Regions from separate parts of the Homo sapiens genome. Here regions 1, 2, 3 and 5 are each reported to be linked to region 4. Evidence: microRNA targets listed by miRTarBase, many of them from high-throughput screens and not tested one by one. Region 4 holds a microRNA gene; each other region holds the end of a gene's coding sequence.
The links. The annotated mature microRNA hsa-miR-199b-5p reads CCCAGUGUUUAGACUAUCUGUUC and lies in region 4 at 2,673-2,695, shown strand. An mRNA with a match to its seed (bases 2 to 7 or 8) in the 3' UTR can be bound and repressed. Matches are read on the target gene's strand: a 7mer-m8 pairs with bases 2 to 8, a 7mer-A1 pairs with bases 2 to 7 and ends in A, and an 8mer does both.

Region 1: the mRNA of C1orf226 is a reported target of hsa-miR-199b-5p. Seed matches in the 3' UTR shown: 7mer-m8 at 3,266-3,272 and 7mer-A1 at 2,171-2,177.
Region 2: miRTarBase lists ZDHHC9 as a target of hsa-miR-199b-5p. Seed matches in the 3' UTR shown: 7mer-m8 at 3,573-3,579 and 7mer-m8 at 2,559-2,565.
Region 3: the mRNA of ZNF215 is a reported target of hsa-miR-199b-5p. Seed matches in the 3' UTR shown: 8mer at 2,404-2,411.
Region 5: the mRNA of EXTL3 is a reported target of hsa-miR-199b-5p. Seed matches in the 3' UTR shown: 7mer-m8 at 3,438-3,444 and 7mer-m8 at 1,350-1,356.

Annotation. Positions count from the first base shown.
Region 1 is chr1:162,382,903-162,387,018 of GRCh38, reverse strand. C1orf226 (chromosome 1 open reading frame 226) reads right to left here. Exons shown (of 2, transcript NM_001085375.2): 2 at 207-3,837. The coding sequence ends at 3,336. Among named protein-coding and RNA genes, the nearest start is that of C1orf226, 3.2 kb to the right of the region's middle.
Region 2 is chrX:129,802,654-129,806,769 of GRCh38, forward strand. It overlaps ZDHHC9 (zDHHC palmitoyltransferase 9), which reads right to left. Exons shown (of 11, transcript NM_016032.4): 11 at 635-3,833. The coding sequence ends at 3,717. Among named protein-coding and RNA genes, the nearest start is that of SASH3, 25 kb to the left of the region's middle.
Region 3 is chr11:6,956,225-6,960,339 of GRCh38, reverse strand. ZNF215 (zinc finger protein 215) reads right to left here. Exons shown (of 7, transcript NM_013250.4): 7 at 2,293-4,115. The coding sequence ends at 3,809. It overlaps LOC102724711 (a long non-coding RNA gene), which reads left to right. Exons shown (of 3, transcript XR_002957236.2): 2 at 3,813-4,099. Among named protein-coding and RNA genes, the nearest start is that of ZNF215, 32 kb to the right of the region's middle.
Region 4 is chr9:128,243,383-128,247,477 of GRCh38, reverse strand. MIR199B (microRNA 199b) reads left to right here and starts at 2,648; the gene lies at 2,648-2,757. DNM1 (dynamin 1) reads right to left here. Exons shown (of 22, transcript NM_004408.4): 16 at 975-1,084; 17 at 1-103. It overlaps MIR3154 (microRNA 3154), which reads left to right and starts at 2,448; the gene lies at 2,448-2,531.
Region 5 is chr8:28,750,373-28,754,482 of GRCh38, reverse strand. EXTL3 (exostosin like glycosyltransferase 3) reads right to left here. Exons shown (of 7, transcript NM_001440.4): 7 at 1-3,826. The coding sequence ends at 3,617. Among named protein-coding and RNA genes, the nearest start is that of EXTL3, 51 kb to the right of the region's middle. RefSeq lists enhancers at 823-1,765, 1,766-2,710.

The DNA.
Region 1 (4,116 bases), not on the chromosome of region 4:
TGGCACATCCTCAGAAGTCATTTCCCCGCCAAGGGTTCAGGCTGGAGGTGTCGGTAATGCCCATCTTCCTCACATTCTACCTCCCTCATTTCTCACTTTTCCAGGCTTACAAAGGAAAATGCCAACATACTTCAGCCAACAAGTCAGCCTTGAGGAAACCAACTGCTCCCCATCAGTCAGGAGGAAAAACAGACAAAGCCAGCAAACCAAACCAAATCATTTTATTGTGCAATTTCCTTCTACCAGAAAATTACTAAAAATATAAATATTAACTCTCTAAAAAATACTCAGAATAGATCTGTAATCTTCCTCCTCCTCCTCCGAACTGGAGCCAATCTTCTTCTTTAAACGCTGATGGATTGCATACATGTATGTCTTCCATATCAGCCACATACACAACATTCAGATACACTTCCCTCTGTGCAGGGGGATACACCAGCCTCCTGCCAGGTTCTGGAAGCTCACCTTATAATCTACCAGGATACAGCTGTGTGCTGAGTAGGAGGTTATGGTGGGGTTGGGGAGTAACAAGGAGATAAAAGACCTTGTGGTCCCAACTTCCTTATGTGGACAGAGAAGATAGGTCCTTTACTCCTCCTCATTACCCTGCCCTCTCATGGACTGGGCTAACTGAAGGCCAAGCTCCCAGAGAAGCTGGACTCACTGTGCGGGATTACTGAGGGTGTGGCTGCCAGGCTACAGTCACAGGAAGGCCAGACTGTTGAGATGGACATGGAAACCAGGTGAGGCTTTGGATGGAAAGCTGGTCTGGGCCAAGGCCTCTGCAGGATGAGTAGTAGCTGTTCCTGCTGGGCTTTGGGCAGCCCCTAGACCCTAGCACCAGGTACTATGTGCAGCATCTAAGACCAGACACCAGTCTCAGAGAGCCTCCCGAGGTAGCAGCAACATCCCTGCAGCAGGGGGACGGGCAGGTTGTAGGCAGTTAGATTGGAGCAGGGTCCCATGGCACTGTATTCAGTATCAGACACAGGTCTGAAGAACTCTGGGGTCACCCTGGCAATGGTCCTGGACAACCTGGTGGGATCCTTTTGCTCATCCTGGGTCTAAGGTCCTGGACTCCAGCAGCAGCTGGGCTATAGAGTGGAGGCAGGGTACTTAAGAAAGGCTGCACCTGCAATACCTGTACCTATGGCTGCCATATCATCGGGCCAGAGCCGCCCTGGGCTCCAGGAGAGGAGAAGCCCCAGAGTGCAGGGGCTTGCTAGGTTTCCCATCAAAGCACAAACCATGCTCCTGGTATGGGAAGCTCAGATGAAGTGGCTTGCTCCCAGGATGTGTGTTTGGGGACTCTATCCCTATCCTCAGCTCTGGTGTTTTGTGTGATACCCCAAACCATTCTGGGAACACTCAAAGGACCCCGAATGCTAGTCCTGAGACCTCCTCTCTGACATCAGGGTCAGATATCACATCCTTAGAGTGAGAAAGAATGTACACGTAAGCCCTGCTCACTCTACCAGGGCCTGCAGGTGCCCTACTGCAGTGACTCCTACGAGGGAGGGGAGACAGTTTGTGGTGAGCACGTGGTGAAACCTGGCTTTCTGGGAGAAGGAAGACAATGGAAGGCAAGGTAGAAGGGAAAGTGGTGGGAGGGCCATGGCAAGGCCACACAGCTGCAGAAGCAAGCATGCAGGAAGGAACCCACATCCTAGCAATCCTGCTGAGGCTCCTAGTTGTGTAGGAGTTAGCATGGCCATTTTATATGGCAGTGGTGGTGGGAAGGGGAGCAGAGGCTTGGAGATGAGAAGAGCTGGGAAGCAAGCCCTGGGTATCCCAGAGCTTATGGGTGGGAAGCCAAACAATGAATAGAACAGGGGAGGCCACAGGAATCCCAGGAGGAGGATGCCGCACCGCCTGCCCTGGCCGGACGTGCCATTCCCAGCCTTCTCCCAGGGAACCGGCCACCTTGTTCAAGAAAAAGAACGTTCTCCTCTTGCTGCAAAGAGCCCCAGAATTAGGATCACCCCCTTACAGGATCTGCTGGTCACAGGAAGACAGCACAATAGGCCCCTGGTGGGAGACCTAAAAGTGGGTTGCAGGAACCAGTTAAGGCTGGATGAACCTGGTCAGTCCCTTACATGGATCCTGAAGCAGGAAAAAGCCCACCAGCATCAGCATAAAAGAAAGGCAGGCAAGGGCAGGGCGGGGCCGCTCCAGTGAGGTCCAGAGCTGCAGGAGGCCCAGGCAACTTCAGCACAAGCACAAAGCACTTCCACTTAATTAAAACTGGTTTCCCCCCACAGTTCTTCTCACATTCCAATCTTGTACATGCTTCATTCTGGCTCTCACAGCAGGCCCAGGCCCTGAAACGGCATTATTTTAGGCTGCAAGGTGGCCCCTGAAAAGCTGTTCTGATCCCCAGTGGTCGCTCTTCTCTGTCCCATCCTCACTCCCTTCTCCCTGCTTCTGCTCTGGGTTTTTAGCACCAGCTCTGAATGCCAAGACCACCCCCAAGTTCCTGGGCCCTCCCCACAAAACCAAATCAGAGTGTGCTAGGCCGCATCTGCTGGGGCCTGGCTCTCCCTGTCTTCACACACTCAGCAAGAGAAGCCTGATCTTTCCTTCCGTGCAGAATGCCCACATTTTGTGTTCGACATCTGACCAGATGGGAGAAACCTTGGGAACCCTGGGTGGCAGCGTTCAAACCCTGGGTGAACTCTCAAGGTCTCAGGCCTGGTAAGCATCTCCTCTGGCCTCCACCCCAGGGGCAGAGCAAACATGGCAACCAGGGGCCTGCACTGTCCTGGGACCAAGAGGAGCTATGGCTGGGCTGTGGTCAGGGTGTGTGGCTTTCTAGGCCATGGCCTGTCATCAAGCCAAACACATCATTCCTCATCCAGCCTTCCTCCCGCTGAGGCCAGGGGCATCGGACCCATCAAGGAGGAGAGAGAAGGGACAGGGGTGTGGGAGGGAGAACAGCAGGGGAGGAGGCGCATGTAGGGGACAGGCAAAAAGAATTCCTGTAAGATCCATTGTCCTGAGCTGGTGGCCCTGCAATTCACTGAGAAGACAGGACAAGCTCAAGAGTGGAAGAGCTCTAATGTCCAAGGGCTGCAGCCCACTCAGAGGAGGTTACAGAAAATTAGGCTCAAAACGGCATCAAGTCCTTCAGCCATTCTGCGGATAGACTCTTTAACTAGAACTACTCAAGGACTTCCAGTCCTGCAAAATCCCATGATGGACGACTGGCTCTCTGCTGGTGCCTCATACAAGGAAGACAAAGGGCACAGCGGAGTTGAGGCCAGGGCCAGTGTGCGCAGTGGAGGAGAAAGCAGCAGGAAGACAAGGGCAGAGCTCAGCAGGAAAGAGCAGAGGCTCTATTCAAAGGACAGCAGGTCTGGGTGAGGGCCCTCATTGTCGAGGCTGGAGGTCCGTGCCTGAGGAGGGGGGCTGCCATCCTCCCAGGACTCAGCCAGGCTGATGGGGCTCAAGCTGAGTTTGAAGCCATTCCTCTCGATAAGGCTGGGGGAGGAGGCCCTTCTGCACTCAGTCATCTTTAGCTTGGATTCGTCCTGGCTATCCTTGTGGATTAGGTCAGGTACTGACAGGGAAACCTCTCCATTGGGCAGAACTTTGCCTCTCTCTTCTCTTTCCATGGTGGCCTCTGGCTGTGAAGCGTCTGCTGGGACGTCAGGCTGGGCAGTGGGAGCGGAGTCCTGGGCCTGCCCAGGTGATGGCTCTGTCCCATACTCCAGACTGCTGAGGACAGGCTGTGATGAAATCAGCATGTCCTGGGTGGTCTTCAGGGCCCGAGGGGTTCGCTTTCTGGTTATGGGAGGTGGAGGATCCAGCCGAGGAAATGTTTCTTGCAGGACTGACCTGTAAGGTTAATGACAATAAACACACATGCCTTAAGGACAGCAAGACACCAATCCACCTGCCATCTTGCTTCTCCAACTCCAACTGCACTTTCAACCCACCCCACCCAATAACTGCTCTACTCCTTGGGCTCTGGTTCTTGGTTTGGCACATAGGCCTTAGCAATTTCAGCATAACAGTAGCTTTTGGCCTGGTCCATGCTTACTCAGTGTTCAGAGCAGCACAAAGTGCTGGCCTCTAGAAGACAGGATAGAGACCGCTGGTGAAGCTTGTCAAATC
Region 2 (4,116 bases), not on the chromosome of region 4:
CTAGCTAATTATACCAGGTTTTTCCACCTACATTAACGTACAGAACATTGAAAGTTTTACTGATGTAGATTTGCAGTTCCCATTGCCCTTTCATATTAATCCCAAATATAAAGTTTATAATGATTCTTTTTTCTGTGAGCTGGGCTTGCATCCTTTAAAACAAATGATATTCAGAGTTGTAGCCTTTGACACTGTTTCTAAAGCCTATCACCAAGAACAGCAAGAGATTCCTAGAATGTATTCTCCAAACTGACACAAATGCTTTTTGAATTACTGGGAACATGACTCTTCTTTAGTAGCACCAAGGCATGAGAACGAATTATCATTTTTTTAAAACCATTTACTGTGCTCCCTTGGTGATTTCCCCTGGCCTGGCCCCAACTCAGGAGTATAAAATGAACTGAGCTGGAAGAAAAGGACTAACAGGGCCAGGCCATGGGGAGAGGGGAGGGGGCTGGGTTGCTAGGTTACTACTAGAGCCAATCCAAGTGGTCCCAGAGGGGTACCAGATACAGGACAGGTCCTTCTCTCTGCCCCCACTAAGTTGAGGGCCCTCTCAGAGGAAGGGGGTCAAAAGGTGGGGGAGGGAGTCCAATCACTCACACTAGGCACAAGTAAAGAAATGAGGCAGAAGCACAAAGAAACAGACAGCCCTGTATTTCTAAAACCATTCAAGGCTCCTTCATTAATTGGCTTCCCCCCAAAAGAAAGATTTCTTTATTAAGAAATACCAGAGAGTGAAAAACCCCCAACACATACACATTTGTAGGCTCACACAAAAGTGCAGAGATTTACATATTAAATTGCATTTAAATTAGAAAATAGATTTAAAAACAAAATACTTTTTTTCTCCAACAAAGTAAAGAGATTTGGTCAGTAGGAACGGGTGCTTTATGGGTAAAGGCAGGATGGTCAGGACAGGGAGAATGGAATTTAGCTGCTACGGAATCAGAATCCACCTCTAACCCAACCTCACTCCTGGGGTAAAAGCAAAGGAGGAGATGATGATCTCAGCTAGGGCCAGGAAGGCCTCAGAGCTGAATGGACATGAAGAAATGGCTCACCACAGCCAATTTCCACCTGCCCCCAGAGGTTTGGGATCAGTGCCAACCATCCTGGCCTGGGAAAGTAGGGTGCATAGGAAGCTTGAGGAAGAAGGAGGAAGGGGAGAGTTGGAGACAGTGTCAGCCATTGAAAAGACCAAACAATTTAAGGCCCTTTTCCCCTGGGAACATTGATTCTTTAATCTCCCCTCTGATCAGATAGGGACAGTCCCAGCTGGTGCATGGTATGAATGGGACAGATCTTCAGGCCAACATCTTAAACATGGAAGATTTATTAAGGAAAAGAAAGAGGGCAGGGAGTATGAAAAAGCAGAAAATCATTTCACACTAGAGATAAGAGATTTCCACTTTGACCCTTCCCATCAGAAAGAGAAAGCTTCTCTGTCTGACCTAAGGGTCCTCAGGAGAACACTTGAGGTAAGGTGAGGGAGGAGAGAGAGCCATCTGAGCCCAGGAGAGGAGATGGGCTGAGTACTTATTAAAATGGGGTTCATATGAGTGCCAAGTTACCTGGGGAAACCTAACAACTTACAAATTCTCCAGGTTTGGCTTTATAACTTCAAGAAAAAAAACTGAGAGAACCAGAAAAAGAAGCAGACAGGAGAGGGATCTGAGTCAGTCTCTCCCCATCTCTCTTCCAATCTCTCTCTCTCTCTCTCTCTCAAGAATGCTCAACTTAAATCCTGTTAAAAGGAAAAAGGAAGACATGGAAAAAGGTCTGGGAGCAGCCAAATTTCATTAATTCCAATTAACTGGGAAGTATGAGATGGGAATTGATAGGGAGTCTTGATTATACACCACCTAGAAAGAAATATATACCATCACTTGTAAAAGACCACTGATCAAATATTTCCAAGGGGGGGCCCTGATGAGCCTGCGTTAATAACTAAGACTTATTAGCAATTAACGGCATCCATCTGCTTCAAAACAATATCCTAATATAGAGCTTGTTCTCTTAAGTAAATATAATCCCTCTACCTTCCTGATCCTGTTCACACTATATCTCCTTGAAAGTCCTTTCTTCATAGTCCAGAATAAGAAAACCTTCAGCCCAGAATGTAGTATAGATCAATGGAGAGTTTGGAACTACCTCTCCAACCCAAGGGTGCCCTGGTTAATGGAAGTTTGGGGAGTAACAAGCAACCCCTTCCAACCCCCACCCCCACCCTACACACAAACATATTCTTGAAATGGAAGGGGGAAGGAGGAGGCAGGAAGTTTGCATTAGACACAGTTTAATCGCCTTCAAATAGATGAAAAGTTCTGGTTTACACTCCCCCACCGCATAAGTCATCCAGACAGGACCCTGGCTTAGAAAGAGGAAAACACAGGTGCTCTAGGAAATATAGCCACATATAATACATAAATCTTCTTCCCTGAAATAGAGCAGGTCCTGAGCAGAGCTGACTGGGGGCCACAGCCCACCCCCAGGGTGAAGTGGCTCTGGGACTCTGCCGGTGGAAGTGCTGGAAGAGCGGGGCTTGGAGGAAGCCCCCAGTGTGGTTACCATAGCCAGAGGTGGGCCGAGGCCTTAGGGTGAGTTACCCGAGAGGGCAGCAGTGCTGGGCTTTCCCTCACTCAGCCGAGGCTTAATGGAAGAACTGGTTAGCATTTTTTTTTTTTTGAGGGTACATCGGGGGAGAGGAGAGGAGAGGAGAGCCTCTCTGTGCCTTGGTTTCCCATTTGTGCATTCAGGGCCTCTGCAGGCCTCACACAGGGAGTCTGAGGGGATAGTGTTTAAGTGAGCACTCAGGCTTCCTCTGAGGAAAAGAAATGACCAAAGTGCAGACTTTTATTACTGCCATTCCTGCTCCTAATGGGAGCAGGAGTCAAAAGGAAAAACAAATTAAAAGGGGCTAATGAGAAAGGAGGAGAGATGAGACAGAGAGTGTGAAGGGCTATGCCGCTGGCATCTCATAAATTCTTATTGAGAATGGCACAGGTATTAAAAAAGTTTCTGGGTAGTCTACGAGAAATGTCAATTATTATCTCTACTACAACTACTTACATATATCTAATGGGAAAAGAGTGGGGCTTAGGTGTCAGAGTGGATGGGAGACAAAGGAGAAGCTACACTAATAAATACAACAAGTGGAAGGTACCTGTCCCATTCCTAAAAGGATTTGTGGGCAATGCTGGCACTTGGTGGCCAGGAGAATCTTCTGACCCCACTCTCCCTCCTCTTCAGTCCTGAAGACCCCAAGAACCCAGTTAGGATCCCCTGGCCAGAGGTCTCTGTGACTGCCTCTGGACTCAGCACGTGCAGCAGCTTGGGAGGATTTGAGCCAGTCTCAAAAACTTTTAGCCCCAGAATGAGACCAGTGACCCCAAGCAGGAGGGCTGGGATCTGGAGGGAAGAGAGGGGGTCCAAGGGGACCCTGTGGCTGAGGCCATGGAGAACCAGTGCCAGGGCCCAAGAGACCCATTTTTCCAGTTATCAGAGGTGACTGACATCTTCTGCCACTGCCTTGAGTTCAGAAATTTAAAAAAGCTTGCAGCAAGAAAATGCCAGTGTGCAACTGGGTGACTAAAGACCAAAGAAAAACAGTTAAAAGGGACAGCTTACTTGCTCTCTGTCTCAGGTTTAACTTCTCACCTGAAATCTCTCATAGCCCTAATTAAACACAAACAAAAGTCTCTTCCATAGATAGGCTACTTCTCAGCTTCAGCTGCCTCCTGTGGTGGCTCTGGGGGCTCTGGAGGTGGCATCTCTTCGGGAGTGCTGCTGTCCTCCGGCATCTCATTTGAGTTCAGGTGTTCTGTGGGGGCCTGAGAAGGAAAAGATATGAGATTCAACACAAAGCTGTTCCTCAAAATCCAAATGCAGATAAACCTTAGACACTGAACTCTTCCTCTCAGCCCCCTGATCACACTGATGCTACAGATATGCAGCCACCAACACCAAACTCAGAACCAACACCAAGCTATCGTCTTCTCGGCAGAACACAACTGAAGTTTATTTGAGTTTGATCCTTAACTGTTGGTTGGGGACAGATTTTTCTATTATTATTAATAGTCATAATAATAGGAATCACAAATAATTACACAGGTC
Region 3 (4,115 bases), not on the chromosome of region 4:
TCATATGGTCTTGTGATTTTTTGAATCCTAACTTGCGCTGTTCCCTCCTGTAACTTGACTTTTTAAACGCTCTCAATATATATTGTCAAGTTGGCCCTCCAGAAAGTTAGTAATTATTTGCATTCCCATAGTGGCATGTGAGTTACATTTCTTAAGAGTCCCACTAAAACTGAGTGTTATTATTCCTTTTATATGTTGTCTATCAGCCCAATATGTGATCTTTAAGTTTTTTAGTATTAGTGAAAATAGAACATTTCCCTTGTTTATTGGTTGAGATTGGCATTTAACTTTTTAGACCAGTTTTCCACAGCATGGTCAAATTTTCAAAAAATATATCAACATATATCATATATATTCATATATGTATACATCTGTATATGATATATATGTAAATATTGAATAGTTTCCACTCTAATTTGAAGTGACAATTTACGATATGCTAAATTCTTATAAACACCTAGGTCTAGTTATAAACAATTGTCTCACACATGTGAATAGACTAGTATCACACTATGTTACTAGTAATGTTCTCATTACCTTGCTTTTAAAAAAATGGTCACAGCTATTTTCTTACTTCTACAAAGTAAACTTTATAATCACTTTGTGAAATAAATCCTCCCCATTGAATATCTGATTAGAATTTTTCATTTGTAGTTTAATGTGTGGAGACTCAAAATCTCTATAGTAGTCTTCTCATTCCAGACACAGCTTTCCTCTTATTCAAGATTATTTTTGAGCAAAGTTGCTATATTTACCTTATCTAAATTCATTTATTAAATCTAACAGTTTTTCAACGAATTTTATTAGGTTGTCATGAGTCAACCATATCAGCAGCAAATGATTTTCTCCTCCTTTGGAGTTTTATCTTGTTACTTCAATTAGCATTTTCAGAGTACTAAACATGGAATTAACAACAATTTTATCTCACTATTACCTTTAGGCTGAAGCTCAAACTTCTAAAGTGGCTTACAAGACCTCTCATGATGTGCCCCTTGAGTCTCTCTGTAGCTTTACCTCTATGAAATGAAAGCTCCATTCTTTCCCAATGCTGTATTCTAGTAGATGAACTTATGTTTCCTGAACTTGCCATGCCCTCATCCCTTTATAGCTTTGTGCCCCTCGTTTTGCCTTTATCATCTCTCCTAACATTTCCACACTTGCCAGACACAATCTGGTTAATCTACACTCTTCATGTTTCAGCTTAGATATCGACCTTTGATGGTATATAGTAAAACTCAAATATGTGATGATTAATATTGAGTGCCAACTTGATTGGATTGAAGGATGCAAAGTATTGTTCCCGAGTGTGACTGTGAGGGTGTTGCCAAAGGAGATTAACATTTGAGTCAGTGGACTGGGAAAGGCAGACCGACCCTCAATCTGGGTGGACACAATCTAATCAGCTGCCAGTGTGGCCAAAATAAAAGGCAGGAGAAATTGGAACGACTAGACTGGCTTAGTCTTCCAGCCTACTACTTCGTCCAGTTCCGGATGCTTCCTACCCTTGAACATCAGACTCCGAGTTCAGCTTTGGGACTCTTGGACCTTCAACCACAGACTGAAGGCTGCGCTGTCAGCTTCCCTACTTTTGAGGTTTTGGGACTTGGACTCTTATGTAAAATTGGGACTTGGCTTCCTTGCTCCTCAGCTTGCAGGCAGCCTATTGTGGGACCTCACTTTGTGACAGTGTAAATCAATACTCCTTAATAAACTCCCCTTTATATATACATTTATCCTATTGGTTCTGTCCCTCTAGAGAACGCTAATACAATGTACTAAATAAACAGGCTTGTGAAACAAGGCTGCGAGAAGATGTTAATTGGCTATAAATGCTCTGCAAGAGCTTTAAATGCACTCCAAAAATTATTATTTGAAACTATGTTATGTTAAACTTAGTGAACATAGTAAACACTTTTTTAAGAAAGCTTGGAGATTTAGGAGAAAAAAATAAGTATTTTACTTAGGCTCAAATAGCTAGTTGTTCAAAGAAAAGATAAAGAGTGAAAATAGTACTTCTATCTTTCAACCATCCAAAAGAAAATCACAGCTTATTTTCAAAAATTGAAATATTGGACTTGGAATACCTAAATTTAAAAAGTCAGAATCCATTGTATTTAATGTAAGTACTATGATGAATGAACATACCTCAAGAATTTTTTACATTCAGAGTGCTTTTCTCTTGTTAGGCTTCTCTACAAGTTATCTCTTGTTTATACGAATTTCTATATCAATTACTTATGTAGGGCTTTGTCCTAATAAAACTTGTGTTGCAATATAAAGGATGAACAAACATAGATTTTGACATTATTTAATCATAGGAGTTCACTCCAGTATACCTTTTCTGCCTTTGAATAAGGTATGAACCTTCACAAAAAGCTACCATCATCATTAATTGGGAATGTCTCCAGTGTGAATTTTTTGGGGCAGATTAAGTCATACTTCTTGGCTCAAGAACCAGATGGGATCCTGAGGTAGTTTACAGAAGACACAGTTCTGGTGTACAGAGTATAGGAGACTTTAATAACTTCATAATGTCTGGTATAAATGATATACCTAAGGCTATGGACGTCTCTCCAGCCTAAATTCCCAAAGGTACAGTAAGTCTGCACTGAACATCATCAATAGGTTCTTAGGAACTGCAACTTTAAGTGAAATGATGTATAACAAAACCAATTTTACCATAGACTAATGGATACAAACAAGAGTTAAGTTCCTAAGGCAAATGTCTGGTCACAACATCATCAAACTTCTAAAGACCCCAAACGCTTCCAATATCAGACATTAAAATAAATCTGAGCTATATACACATTTAAGACGGATTAATAAAAACAGATAAGATAATTATTTACCCTGTTATTCCAGTACAGGGCCATGGGTGGACAGAGCGCATCCTAGCAGCTCAGGGCAATGGTGGGAACAAACCCTGATTAGGAGCCATTCCACTGCAGGGCACACTTCCTCACAAACTCAGACTGAGATAATTTAGATATGTCAATTAACCTAATGTATACATCTTTGGGGTTTGAAACTGGAGCACCCGGAGACATAGGGAGAGTGTGCGAACTCCACACAGTGTCCCTGGCTGGGAATCGATATTTTTCTCATCAACATCATAACAATTATAACATTATAACAAAACAAAAACATTTTTCAAGGACCTGCTATAAACAAATGCAGATTTTAAGAATACATATAGATTAACAGCAATACATACTTCTCCCATTGCAGTTGATAACCCTTTCCCAACTCTAGTCTCCATTCAACAGCAAGACAACAAAGGGTATTGTCAGGAGTGGAGTAAATGGCTGTTACTGTTGTCTTAGCCATTGATTCAGAGATTTCTGTCCTTAGAAGTATTCTCTTATATTCGCATGAGCTAATGATTTCTTGTGACCTTCTTAAAAGGGCTGAGTTTTATTAAATATCAACTCCAAGAGTATTGTTTGGCTTTGCCTAATGTCTACTTCGTCAATAAATCAGGTGGATATTAGTATGCTATAGACCTATTTATGAACTAGGGAGAGGTGAGGGTAATGGATATCAAAATAATGATAAACAAATACTTGTATGGTGATACTGTGGTTTAACTCCAAAGCCTTATGGCTTCATCTGAAAACCAGGAAAATTCCTTCAAACAGATTTCTATCCAATGATATTTCTATCCAACATTAATTCTGTGATATCATTTAAAGAAAAATCTGACAAATGTTTTCTTACATTATATTCATGAGATTTTATCCAGCATAAATTCATGATGTTAAATGAGTTCTGCATTCTGACTGAAGGTAATCTTTCATTTTTTCTTTTTTCAGGACTTATCTCGAGTATGCAGTTTTTGATGTTTAACAAGGTTTGAACTCCTGTTGAAGGCTTTACTACATTCCTTACATTTGAATGGTTTCTCTCCCGTGTGAATCATTTGGTGTCGAATAAGAGAGGAGCTCCGGTTGAAGGATTTTCCACAGTTAACACATTGATAGAAATTGTTTCCAAAATGGAGTGTTGGATTATTACTGTCTTCACTTTTACTGAAGGCCTTTCCACATTTATTGCTTGTGCAGGCCTTTGCTTCAGCATGAAGTTTTTGATGCTTAGTAAGGTTTGTACGTCGGTTG
Region 4 (4,095 bases):
CTCAGGGTACACGCCAGCCCTCAGGAAGGAGGCCTTCCAGCTGTCCACCTCCTCCTGTGTCTCACAGGCTAGCTCCAGCTGCCGATAATCCTTGTAGACATTCCTGCAAGATAGGGCAGGCAGTGAGGGCAGATGGGCAAAGTCTGACCCTCCCTGGGGGTTAAGGGCATGCCCAGACTTTGGGGTCAACATGCCTGAGGCCAGCTCATTTCCCAGCTGTGTGACCCTGTGCAAGTCCCTTCCTCTCAGCCTCAGTTTCCTCACTGGGAAGATGGGTTAATAATAATTCCTGCCTCCTTGGGTCACTGAGGATTCAGTGAAGTGAGTGGTAAAATGCTTAGAAGGGGACTGGACCTTTGACAAGAGGACAACCATAGTCAGTGAAGTCTCTAGCTTGGGGCCCAGATCCCACCAGCTTTCTCCGTGGCTCTCTAAGGACCCCTCTGATGGCCGCTGGACTGAACTCTCATCTCCGAGTAGCAGAGGGCCCACTAGAGTCAGCCTTGGGTCAGGAAGGAAGAGGACTAGTACTGCCACCACCCTATAGGAAAGAGAGCAGGAGAAGAGGACCAGGCCTGACTAGGGCCCTTTGGCTCCAGTGCCTGGCAGAGTGTCTCATGAAGAGCATGCACTATACCAGTGACTATGGAAGGGAGGAAGGGACGGAGGGAGGGAGGGAAGGGGAGAATGGAAGGAAGGGAGGAAGGGAGGGAGGGAGGAAAGGAGGGAGGATGGAAGGAAGGAAGGGAGGAAGGAAAAGAGGGAGGGAAGGAGGAGGGAAGGGAAGGGGAGGGGATGGGAGATCTTGACATGATGTCTAGCTCAAAGCAGGAACTCAATAAGCATCTGTCAGTGGATGGCTTGCTGTGGGGCCTAGGGGAGGTTCCTCTCCTCCCTGGATCCCTGTACCCAGCTTCTACTCAGTGAGGGTGGTTTTGGGGCTGCAGCAGCCACAGCCAGGGGCAGGCAGGCACCTCTGCTCCGTGTTAAAGAGGGCAAAGATATGCTTGCTCGACATAAAGCCCTTCTCCACGTCCCGCAGCTTGAGGTTGTCCACAGACAGCATGTATTTCTTCTCTTTCTCCTGTGGGTGCAGGTAGGAGCAATGGGGTGAGGTTGGCACTGTTCTCTGCCACACCTCACTCTCTAAGAGTCCCCCTGACTGGCCCAGGGCTTCTAAGCATCAGCCCCCTCCCACTGCGAAGGTGCAGCTAGATAAAAGCCTGGCCACGGACCGTAGGCCTCCTGGGCACCGCCGACCCCCGCAGAGCCAGTCCTACCAGCTCTGCATATATGCCGGGGGCCAGGGGGCTGGTGAGGGGTGGGGAGGCTGAGAGTGGCTCCCAAAATCCCTCCCCAGGCAAGTCCTGGATACAAGCCAGGCCAGCCTCAGGCAGGGACCGCACACTCAGGCCTCTCTCACCCCCGGCCTGGCCGCCTCTGACTTCATTTCCTGACTGCAGAGACCAGGAAGGGGGGCCACCAGACCCGGCGGCTTCAAAGGGCCGGCTCAGCCCACTCCCCCGAGCTCCCCATGTGTTAGCAATAAGGCAGCCAGCACAAGCCTGGAGATGGTGTGCCTGTGTGTGCAACATGTGTGTAGTTGTGTGTTTGTGCCAACACATGCAAGCCCAAGTACATATCCTATCAGCTATTGTGTGTGTGTGCACATGTGTATCTGGGGAGGTGCCCAGCATGAACCATGTGTCGGTGTCAGCGTGTCTGCATCTCAGTGTGGATGTGTGCACACTTTGTGGATGTGTGTGGCAATTGTGCGAGCCTACATGTTTGCAGAGCCATGCCTGTGGACTTATACTGGGGTACACATCTTACCTGCACACCGTGGTACAATGGGCTGTGTGTTTGATTTATCTAGAGCTGTCTGGGAGGAGTTATGTGTATCTGTGCACAGGCGTGTGGGGTGCTAGGCCCATGTGTGTGCTCGGTGTGGGCACATGTGTATGTAGGCTGCTGTGTCCCAGGGGAGGGGTTCAGGGATCTAGGGAGGAGGTACCCCAGGATGGGGCTCTGGGAGAGGGGAGGGGTTTTTGTCACCCATGCCCTACTTGTTCACGGGGGTCGTCTGTGTGGGCCTCGGGGACTCAAAGAGGTTGGGCATGAGCCTTGCCTAGGATCTCAGGTGGGGGGCTGGGTTTAGGGGGACCTTGCTCCCCCGTCCTGGCGTCATCCCGCCCACCCCTCTCTGCCCCCAACGCCCCCCTGGCCCATGCAGCCACATAAAGCCCTCTTTATGCCAGGCGGGTGGCCGGGAGCCCCAGAGGGCGGCTGGGGGAGGAGAGGAGGAAGTTGCACACACGGCCAGGGAACATCTGGAACCGTTCGAGAGAGGCCCCGCCACCACCCGCCCTGTGCTTCGGGGTTGGACACTAGGTAGGAGCGGCCTCCTCCCCCCACCCCTCCCTTCCTGCCGGCCGGCCCCCTCCTCAGGCCCCTCCTTCTCAGCCCCAGCTCCCGCTCACCCCTGCCACGTCAAAGGAGGCAGAAGGGGAGTTGGGAGCAGAGAGGGGACCACGGGCTGGCTGGTCTGGGGCTAGGGGGACACAGGCTGGGGTTGGGGGGTTCTCGGATCTCCAGGGGATGGGGCTGAAGCGCCCACCGGATGGACAGACACTGCTGCCTGGATGGACCAGAGGACACCTCCACTCCGTCTACCCAGTGTTTAGACTATCTGTTCAGGACTCCCAAATTGTACAGTAGTCTGCACATTGGTTAGGCTGGGCTGGGTTAGACCCTCGGCACCGCCGCCACTGGAGAGCTGGACCGACCCCTGCCTGCCATCCCAGAACCGGAGCCTGGAGCCAGGGGGTTGGGGCACAGGGCGGGCTGGGAGGAGGCACAGATGGATGGGGGTGCCACCCTGTGTGGGACTGGTTGGGGGTAGCGGTGATGGGGGAAGGGTGGCCGAGGAAGACTGAGAGGATGGGGGGGTCAATGGGGACTGGGGATGTGGGCAGCCGCCGGTCTGCCCAAAGAGCCTCCCTCACCCCAAAACCTGAGGGCTGGTGGTTGAGTAGAGAAGTACAGACCACTCTCCCACCAGCCTGGACCACCTCCACATCCCCAGTGGTCCTAGTGCAAGAATCCACTCACATTCAACACACACGCACCTTGACACTCACAGCCCCAGAACTCACACACATGAGCACCCCCACACTTTCAATCTCACACCCATGTCCCACACGGACACACACAAGTGCATGCACACACACCCATACACACCCTCACAACTGGAACACTCCCCCCATCCTCACATCCCAAAGACATACACAGATTCTCAAACACCCCATACTCACACCCTCCCTCCTAGAGCCCCCTCCCCACACACACCTGCTTTTACACCCCAAGCACAGGCAGGTGCCCAGAGTCACTCCCCAGGCACACAGATTTCACCCCCAGATGCAAATGCAGACCACATATTCCAAACACACCTAGATGCTTATACTCCAATCACACTCCTAAAAAACACCCACACACCAGACCCACAAGCCACACACACACACACACACACACACACAAACACACCCCGCCTCCCAGCACCCACAGCCCACAGCTGACTCCCATCTCCCCACATATGATTCTCAGAGCTGTTTTCGCACACGACTTAACTCAGATGTACACAAAAGCTCCAGAAAGGCCTGCAGGCTCAGGCATGAGATCAGGGGACCCCCTCAGTGGCACGTGCCCCTCCCCCACAGTGTCACCCGGTCTCCGGCCCTCAGCCCCAGGTCACATGGTCTCCCTGGCCCTGAGTAAGGAACCTCAACATGGGAGACCCCAAACCCATGGGGGCATCTAGGGAGCCTGCAGAGAGACCGGCAGGAAGCCACCCCCCACCCGCACCCCATGCCACTGCACACTCCATCCCTTCCAGGGGCCCCCATGGTGGGGGAGGCCAGGGTTGGGGTAATGAGGTCCAGATGGCTTGGCGCCCCCGCCAGTGACGACAGAGGGCCCCTCCCAAGGTGGAGAGTTGGGGCCCCTGCCCAGGACAAACTTGGAGGAGACAGGGACCTGGGAGGGGGCTTGGAGGCCAAAATCACAGGCCCCACCCAGAGCCCCGCTCCCCCGTTGAGG
Region 5 (4,110 bases), not on the chromosome of region 4:
TCTCACCCATCAGCTGCTGCAAACTTGCCTGATCAGTCGTGAACCCCACTTGAGGAGGGACACCGACTGTTAAGTCTCACCCATTCTTAGGACTGTCAGTGTGACCAAAGCTGCCACCTGCAGAGCCCAGGAGAGGAGTCCTCGCCTTTACCCCCTTTCCCATCTCCATCCTTCTCCCCGAAGCCCACAGCTCAGTGCCCTCTCCTGAGGAAGCCTCTGATCCCACAGCCAAGCACAAGATCTAGGCCTGTGGGCACCAACAGGATGGGGCTCTGCAGTCAGGGAGCGTCAGCTCGGTGCAGGTACAGGTGCCTTAGTGACCTATAGGTCAGGGGCATGACCTATGGACCGAATCGAGCCATTCACAGTGAGGCCTCACCTGTCCTGGGATCGCAGGCACACACAGCTCCCCACAACCACTACACACACACACACACACACACACACACGCATTTTAAATTCCCATGAAAAAATTAACTTTGCATATATGGGCCACATGCCCTTCCACATCCTGCTTAAAGCACCTCAACAGCCCCTAAGTTCCTGTTTTGTCAAAATGACTTGCCCTGGAACCGGGCACAGGCAAGGCTGCCCATGTGAGTGTGAGTCTGTTCACCCATCTCTGGTCCACAGCCCACACCAGGGCCTGGTCAGGCTGCCTCCCATCGTCTTCTGCGAGCAGGCCCAGCTGGCATACACAGGTGGCGACCTGGAATCAAGCAATCAAGCAGGTGCCTTCTCTCAGGTCACTCTTCCATACTTGCTGAGGAAAACCACAAAAGACCTCCAAGCTGCTTGAGTTAAAGTCTCCATTTATTTTTATTTTTTTACAAAAATCCAATGTAAGACCATTGTGCTCGTGACGAAAAGGGGTGGGGTGGATGGACGTGGCATGGATATCAAAGCTTCCCCCCACAAACTAGGAGCTCCCCACTCTGTCCGGCGCAGCTCCCAGAAAGATCCCATCCTTCCGGACAGGACCCCAGCTGGTGAGCCCTGGCCTGAGGCACAGTCCACACGGAGGAGCACTGCCCAGGGAGCCAGCGCTCACAGTGGCCTGCAGAGCCCTGGGACGGTGTTATGGTAAGACAGCCCAAACCGGAGCAGCAAGCCGGCCACCCAGAGAACGAGGCGCTCCTGCACCCTGCGAGCCAGGACAAGGTGGCCAGGGGCGGCCCACAGACAGCCAAGGAGACCCGGGGTCTGTGGCGCCGCTTTCCCATCTCAAGCGAGTCACAGGTCGGCGGCTTTCCCGTGGTGAGAAGCACCTGACCAGTGACACTGTGGCCACCTTGCTGCCTCTCGCTGAGGAGGGCGTGCCCCTCAGAGCCTGTCTGCAGTCCTTCAAGCCAGTGTTCCTTTCAGGGTCAAGGAGGGCTGTCCTTGTTGGAAGCACCGGCACCACAGCCCTCCCTGCGGCATGTTTTGGTGTCAGACCACTCAGCCCTTCTTAGATCCACCAGTGACATTCGGGGCCCGACAACCTGGCTCCACTAAAGGGAGAGGCCCTGGCTCCACCACACAGACGGCCCCAGCTCACTGAGTCCCGCTAAAGGGGGTCCCACCACACAGACGGCCCCGGCTCACCGAGTCCCACTGAAGTCAGTATGTGAGTTCCTCACATTAAAAGAAACCAGATGAAATAGCAGCCACAATATAGCGCCACACACCACACTCTTTGGCTCCCCGAGGGAAGAAGGCTACTGCTAAAAGGAATACAAGTCAGGAGTCAGGTAGAGGGCAACTAGAAAGTTCTGAGGAAGGGCGTCTGACCCCCACTGCTGGGAACATAACCACACTGCCTCAGCAGGGGAGCTACAGGCTGATGCTGGGGTTGGGGGCGGGGAACCTTTGGAAACACAGTCCTGGCGGCGGCCGGGTCCGGTTTGCCAATGGGGAGAGTTCCCTTAAGCCGAGCTAGCCCTACAGGTGGGTGGGAGCTACACAAAAGAGCCCAGCTTCAAAACAGTACTTGAAGAGGACCCACGTGGTACAGGCAGGTCAGAGGAGAACGTATTCCAAGAAATAGAAGCACAGGATGCCAAGGTCTAGGGAAGACGGAACTGGCTTAAGGCATGTGCATGACCAGGACAAACCTGAGCTTTTGTTCAGTTGCTAGAAAACTTCCAGAGTCAACTCCACTTCCAGAAAGTAGGGTTCAAGAAACACGTCATGGGCTAAATCCCTGACAAATGCCACTCACACCCTCCTAGGTTCCCCTACTGCCACCGTGACCCAAAAAATTAGCTTATTTCAGTTTCAGCCCAGGGAACAGAATCCTAAGCAGGGAGTGGAAAGTGGTAACTCGGGTTGTGAATGCCCGTTAGATTCCAAGGCTGGATGTGAGCTTACACAGCAAATCACAGCCTCCCATTGTTCTAGCACATACCAAACCTCGGGGAGTCCTACAGCCAAGCTGACATTAGGGGTCCAAAAACCACAGATAACACAGGATGGGGCTCCAGACAGAGGCGGGGGGAAGGTGAATTTCACCAAGGAATTATCCCAAGGCAGGCGCCTTGCTGTAAAACTTCCCGGCCAGCCGGGTGGGTTCCTCGAAGGACACTGGCTTGCTCTACACTAGGGAGAGGAGGCTGACCTGCAAACCACTTCAGACCACAGCAGATGTGCACGCTGCTGATCTCCTGTCCAATCCAAGAAAGAGCACTTCAGAAACGCCTGAGGCCCACAGCACGTGTGTTTCAACAGAAGAGCAGGATAGAAAGAGCCATCTGGGAGTGGCGTCTTCAGCCCCTATTCTTTCTCACTCTTTGCTTCCTCATTCTCTCTCAAACAAGAGAGAAATGGGAGAGCAGGGATAAGTACGGAGGCAAGCCTGGCCTAAAGATAAATCCTCAAAAATCGCTGGCCCCAGCAGCAGGAAGCTGAACAGCCCACCAGGGTCAGGCGCTCCCAGGGATTCACTGGGAAGAGAATGTGAGTTACAGGTTGCTGACTGGCAACAGAAAGGGTAAGGAAGAGACCTTGTCCAGGCCCGCAAGAGGGCCAAGTTCATCCCTTTCTGGTTGCTGCACACAGATGGCGCTGGGGAGGATGGGAGATGATCTTTAAGGATAAGCCAGTGACACAAGGCCAGGACCCATCTCCGCCAGAATACAGAACAAAGGAGCCTGCGCGGTCCCTCCCTTAGAAAGGCAAAACTCACACTCCCCCAGCCAAAAATATATATGTATGCAAGTGTGTGCATGTATTTATATACACACACATATATATAAATAAGCCTTGAATGGCAAATCTGAAACTTTCTCTTTTTAAATAATCATAATAGTTGTTATTGAATGTAAAAACCACGAACCAGCTGTCCTGGGCGTACGAACGGTGTGAGTGACTCTGCAGAGTCGCCACAGTCCTCAGTGTAAGCTATCAGTCAGTGCCCTGTGTGGGGAACCCCGGGGACTCCGCCCAGGGCTCCAGGCCCAGTGTGGCTGACTTCAAGATAAAGGCAGCGGTTTCCTTCCACTCCTCCTGCTGCCCCTTCCAGCAGAGGCTCTGGGCCACCCACCAGCAGATGTGCCCAAGGTCCTGCAATGCCTAGGAACCTTGGGAGCCATCTTCCTCCCTCTGCTCATCCTCTTCCCCAGACCGTGCGCTGCCCCTAGATGAACTTGAAGCACTTGGTCTTGTCATGGGGCAGGCGTGTCTTGAAGAGCACAGAATCCACCCTGAACTGCGTGTACAGGAGGGGCATGTAGCCGTACACCTTCACGAAGAAGTTGATGCACTTGTGCCGCTCGTGGAAGTGGGAGTCATCATGAGACAGGGCCTGAGGGCATCCTGGGCATCGGAATGTCCACCGTGAGGTCACCTGGAAACGGGAGAGAGAGACAGAGTGGGAATCCCAGCTAATACTGACAGAACCCTTGCAGCTGAGCCGATCCCACACTCCCATGTCCATGGTGAAGACGCTGATCCCCTCAGGGGCAACATCCCTGCAGAGCATGGCAGGAACCAGAGCCCGGCCCCAGGCCTCCTGCCTACCAGATGTCTCCAGAACATTGTCAGGTATTCTGTTGAGATGGCCTACGCTTCTCAGATGCCAAAAGCCTTAACGTGTGTAGTGTCAGCTGTCTCAGTAAGTCTACTCCTAGT